Regions from separate parts of the Homo sapiens genome. Here region 2 is linked to region 1. Evidence: fine-mapped expression QTL. A gene starts in region 1. The other region holds a variant in brackets. All regions are shown on one strand. Distances are from middle to middle. Region 1 holds the start of ASPH (aspartate beta-hydroxylase). Region 2 has its middle 24 kb from the start of LINC02842.

What was found. PIP is the estimated chance that this variant, and not a neighbour inherited with it, causes the effect.
Region 2: its variant is fine-mapped to the expression of ASPH in whole blood (INTERVAL, PIP above 0.99).

What each region holds. Positions count from the first base shown.
Region 1 is chr8:61,713,116-61,716,025 of GRCh38, forward strand. ASPH (aspartate beta-hydroxylase) reads right to left here and starts at 1,477. Exons shown (of 25, transcript NM_004318.4): 1 at 1,154-1,477. The coding sequence starts at 1,256. MIR4470 (microRNA 4470) reads left to right here and starts at 1,673; the gene lies at 1,673-1,744. RefSeq lists silencers at 847-1,276, 1,317-1,686.
Region 2 is chr8:61,759,856-61,762,765 of GRCh38, forward strand. No RefSeq gene overlaps it. Among named protein-coding and RNA genes, the nearest start is that of LINC02842, 24 kb to the right of the region's middle. RefSeq lists an enhancer at 1-1,121. The variant G/C (reference allele first, on the strand shown) is at 1,594.

The sequences.
Region 1 (2,910 bases):
AACTGTGTCTACATCTTTACTTTTAGAATACAAATATTAGTCCTTAGAATGTAAATTTGTGCAATGGATTTAATGCACTACTTTCCCCATTTAAATCCATTCATTCATTCACTACTCAAATATTTATTGAGCACCTATTATGGGAAAGGAACATTCTAGGAGCTGGGGATACAGAGAGAATGAGCCAAAGACAACACACATGAAAGTAATAAGACAAGTTCAGATAGTGACAAGTGCTATAAAGAAAATACTTCTTTGACTATAGCTGATTCATTTTCTTGGTATATTATGAATGCATGATCTGAAGATCTCAGAAAACAAAGAGTCTAAATCACTTCAAGTGAAGTTTACAGCTCACATTCCATACACATGTGTATTGCAGTTTCAATATCCCAAATATGAGTCAAAGGAAGTATAAAAGAAACCAAGAATCACTGAAATATGAGACGAAACAGATTTAAAAATCTGTTCTCTCTGCTGGATATGCACACGGACGAGGAGAAAGGTGAATATCCAATCGATTTTTATTTTAAGTAAAAGTGGTAAAAATACAGACGCTCGTTCAGTATTTCATGACATTCTATTTTAAAGGCAACTGCAACGCATATTAAGAAAGCTACATACAAGCAAAAATATTTAAAATAATTTCTGAGAGCATTCAAATCACTCCCAACTTCTTCCCTCCCCCTGCCCCCCGGCGCCCCCATTTTCACCTCCTTTGAGTTGCTCTGAAACGCTGCTGGTTAGGCAGGAACTCACTTTCCCTGACTTTGGCTCATTTTCAACTCCCCAAAACACGCAAGGCAAACGATAAATTGTTCTCTTACTCCCATGTTCAATTCCACGGAAAGCCAAGAAACAGTCGTTCAGCAACCTCTGTCTCGGCTGCGCCCTGCAGGTGAAGGAACCGCTGGGAAGGGGCTCCCCGAGACTAGCATCCCGAGGGCTCGGACCCCGGTCCGCCTGGCCCCTCGCCCGCCCGCCAGGCCCGCCGAATGCGGCCTCCGCCCCGCGCGCCTAAAGGAGGAGCGTCGCGGGGGATGGAGGCGGCGCGCGGTGGGACCTGGGGAGATGCACCCGCAGCGTCCGCCGCGCCAGCCGGCTCCCTACCCCGAGGCGAGGCCCCAGATCCCCGCCCCGCAGGGCCTCTGACCTCTCCGGGCCCCGGGGCTGCTGCTGCCCGCACTCGTGCTACCGCTGCCGGAGCCGCTGCTGCTGCTGTTGCCGCTGCTCTTGGCATTCTTACGCTGGGCCATTGCACGGTCCGCGGGGGCTGGTGAGGGCTGGCGGACCTCCTTCAGTGCGCGGGGGTACACACGCGACGCGGGAACCGCTGGCGGCGGCGGGCCGCTGGAGCGGGTTCGGGCCGCTGCTCCTGCAGCAGACCCTGTGCCTCAGCACCGCCTGCAGCACCTGGGAAGACTTCACCCGCCTGCCGGCTGCGCGCGCCCGGCCTCGCGTGTACGAACCTGTGACTCCCTCCCGGGGCGAGAGCGCGCGGCTCGCCGCCCGACGGCCACGCCCCTTCCCGGCCTCGCCCCGCCCCCGGAAGGCTGAGTGACGGCGCCTGGGACCCAATCGCAAGGGCCCTTACGAGGCGGCGGTACCCTGCCGCGCTCCCCGCCCCTGCTCACTTAGGGCTGTTCGGGCGCTACGCAGCTGCCTGTGAGCGCGAGCCTCTTTCGGCTTTCCAGTTTGTCTCGGTCCTTTGGAACGTGGCAAACGTGGAAGCCGAGAGGGCTCTCGCGAGCGTTGGCAGACCCCGCTCCATAGGGATGGGACAGGGCGCGGTGCGGAATAGGTGGACACGTGGGCCGCCCGTGGGCGGAGTGCGCCGCTTCTAGGCCTTTCACTGTGGATTTTGTCCCCTTTCCGTATACAAGGAAAGGAAGGAGTGCAGTCTCGCTTCTTGCGAAAGAGATCCCTATTTCTTGTCCTGATTAATACTAAGACATTTCTGGAATGGTGATATTAGGACTAGTTCAATGCTTAAACCGTAGTAGTTCATCCATTTGGTGCTGAAGCAGGAATTTAGTTCGTTTGTGCCATCAGTATTTTCAGATACTCTTAGTTAAGGAATGAAAATGCAAATGTGACACAAAAAGTTCATTTTCTTACCCTGGATGGCACCCTCTGTCTGAAATCCCTGGCTGCTTTGCTAACGCCTGGGCCTGTGCTGCCTGAGAATTCCCAACAGAGTATTAAAATGTCTTGGCACGTGGTTGAACCAGACAAGGACTTGAGATCAGCGACGTCTTTATCATCTTTGTGTCACCATTGCTAACACCATGCCCAATGTGTAACAGGCAAGCAAGAAATGCTTAGTGATTTGATACATTTCTGTCAATTGCTGAACCCACAGCTCTTGATCATGTTTCGTAGCAACCCCTGGGAGTGTCTCAGGAGGGCTCAGGGACCAGAGAGAGCAGTTGCATTGTGGCATCTGGTTTCATTCCTCTTTTCCAGCCCCACAAACCCACCCACCCGCGCCTTCAGAAGCACTCCCGCCTCCCCCCGGCCCCATGCCTTTTCACCTGTGGATGGTTGGATGCTGCTTGACCCTGCCCTGATGATGCACAGAAACCCCCCAAAGGTCATGTTGCAGAATAAAGAGAATGCCTTTCTTTACCTTTTGTCAAATAGTGTTAGGCTATTATCAAGAGACGGTGGGAGGGGAGAGTTCACAGAGTTTTTATTGAAGTAGCTCTCTCAGCTTTTATCTTGTGGCATCTCCTTCTGCATCCATATATCCTTTCTCCCATTCAGGGCCCCCTTACAACCCTCTATTATATTATCTCAATGAAGGAGGTGGAGAACTGGATTAAGAAATAAATCTGAGTGATGGTGCTTCATATAAAATAAAAATGAGAGCTAAATTTCAAAACACAATGCTCTAGCCACCCCCCACCC
Region 2 (2,910 bases), 47 kb after region 1:
CACAAAAGGAGGAAAAATCAAATGATGTGTTATCAAGGTCGCTGCTGTAGACAGCAAGGTTCCATTCTGGCAGGACTTCTACAAAATGTACATAGTGCCCCCAGGAATTGTTCATGACAGGACATTCATCCTCTGGCTGCTGTGGCACAGGCTCCCCTCCCCTTCCAGGTCTTTTGCAGGGTGGGCAGCTACTGTGGCGTCTGAGAAGGCCAGGACCAGAAGCGCATGTGAGCTCTCACCGAGCGTGGGCCAGGCAATGTGACTGGAAGCACCAAAAGGGCTTTCTAGAGTGAGAGTGCTTATTGCTAGAGTGAGAGTGCTTACTGAGGATTTCCCACGGGAGATCGTAGAGGGTGTCCCATGACCCCCTGTATGTGAACAACTTCACAATCACTGCAGCTTTCCCGCAAAGTCACCTCCTGGCTTAGTCACTGCTGCTCTTCCGCAAAGTCACCTCCTGAATTAGTCACTGCTGCTCTCCCGCAAAGTCACTTCCTGGCTTAGTCACTGCTGCTCTCCTGTAAAGTCACCTCCTGGCTTTGGCAACCAGGGCTCCTTTTTTAGCCTCCACCCCCAGCTCCTCCCTGGAACCCTCTCTCCCGCCTTTTGGATTCTACACCAAAGTCAAATTCTCCCAACTCCTGGGAAGAGCGGCCTCTTTCCTGGCTTCAAGTCTGGCTTCTAGCGGTCACAGGCCTGAGGCTCAGCTCCTACCCCAAAGTAGGTTTATCCACACAGCTGCCTAAAAAAGGTAGTGACAAATAACATTTCTTCTCATTATTGCACAAGTTTTCCACAAGCCCGTCCTGACCATATCTTGGATGGATTCTTCAGTCCACTTGGGCTTTTATTCTTGCTAGTCACCATCCGGCCTATTCTGTGCTCCACTGAAATACATCTGTTATCCTGTTATGGACAGGAGCTCTTGTGTTTTTCCCAAGACAATAATTAGGTCATTCAATGGTGAAATTCCTGCTAAGAGCGGTGGCCCAATGACAGTCCTGGCGAGTCAATCTGCTCGTATCTGCCCGTGCCATCTCTGTGCCAGCCTCCCCACTCCTTCCCTCCACTTCCCCTGTACTTGCACTTCTTCCTGCACTAGGTCAAAATTTTGAATTTTGTTTTTTTTTCAATGTCTCTTTAAGTCTGCCTTGATCCAGGAATTCTCTTGTGCTTTGTTCATATGGCTAGCAGCAAACCTCCCTATATTTAACTGAATATATGTCATTTAAAAAGCATCACTGAGTATAATTATCATGGTGCCTCTCCCTTTTTCTTTCTGCTGACATCTGTTTCAAATCTTCATCACTCCTAACTATAGATTTCTCTTTAAGATATTGCTTCAATGTGGCTTTCCTATTCTCGGAACAAATAGAATGGAACTCACTGCATTCTTTTCCAGCTCTTTTGGGTGATGTAGGACAAGGCTGCAGGAACTCAGCTTTTCCAGAAGTAGAGCATGGAGCCATATTAGCTGGAGGGTTGCTGAATGGTTCCAGGTTCAAACATCAGCATAGCAAAGTCATTATGAGCACAAACTCCTGTGACTTACTCAGCTGTGTGACTCAGGGCAAGCAACATAATATTGCTGTA[G/C]CTTGGTTCATTCTTTTTTACAGTGGTAGATACAATAAAGTAATACGCATCTCACAGGGTCGAGTGGGTGCTAAAAGAGTTAGTAGATATCAGGCACTCCAGAGGTTGCTTTATACAGCAGGCACTCAACCTTTGTTTATTACTATCATGTTGCTCCACCAGAGAGTCACAGATTTCATCTCTGGGGTCACTTGATCCCTTTGCTGTCTGCAACTTTTGTAGCTTGGGAGGAGCTTCCTTGACAAGATAAGGAATTTATTTATTCCTCCAGCCAGTGGGATTTCCGACTGTCCGGGGAGGTGGTTTGGAACTAAGACTTAACATGAAGAGAAAATACTGATATATTCCATGGAGACGATCTATTTTCCATTTCAACTTGGAAGACTAACACTTGACTGTCTCACCAGTGGAGGCAGCAAGAGGGTGCATAATACAAAGTTTCTGTAAGCCTTGTAATCTCTGACCACTTGGTACAATGAGAAGGACTGTAATATATTGGATGCTACCAGTTTTTACTTTATGGGGAAAGTTTTTCTTCTATTTTTACAGAATAGTCATGACTTTTACACTTTGCACCTTCAGAAATCTCTAAGTCAGAAAATAAGCATTCTCTGCATCCTGTTCTTTTCTTGACTTTACACTATTACTGAATTTTCATTTCAATAGTTTAATAGTAGCAGCTAACATTGACCCTTTATCATGTGCCAGGGACTAAGTGTTACACAGTTAAGTTCTCATTTAATGTCCTAGATAGTTTCTTGGAAACTTTGGCTATAAGCAACATGACATATAATGAAACCAATTTTCCCACAGGCTAATTGATATAAACAAGAGTTAAGTTTCTATAACATCACGAAGACCTCACCAATCTTCAAAATAAAGACCCCCTAAACACTTCTAATACTAAAGCTAAAATAAATGTGAGCTATACATACATTTAAGAAACGTTAATAAAAACAAGGAAGATAATTACCCAATTATTGCAGTTCAGGGTCACGGGTGGCCAGAGCCTATTCTGACAGCTCAGAGTGCAAAGAGGGACCTAACCCTGGCCAGGAGGCCATCCTATTGCAGGGCCCAGTCATATAACAAAACCACGTTGAACAAATGGCACTGTTCCAAGACCTGCTGCATATTGAATTTCTCATTCAACCCTCCCAATGAGCCTGAAGGAGGCCATATAGCATAGCAATTCACTGTGACATCTCCAGAGTTTACCAGGGGCCAAGTCATGGCTTGCCCACTTACTTGTCTCCTGATGGGAAATTTATTTAGCCTCTATGTTTCTCTGTTTTTGTTTCCTCATCTAGCAAAAGG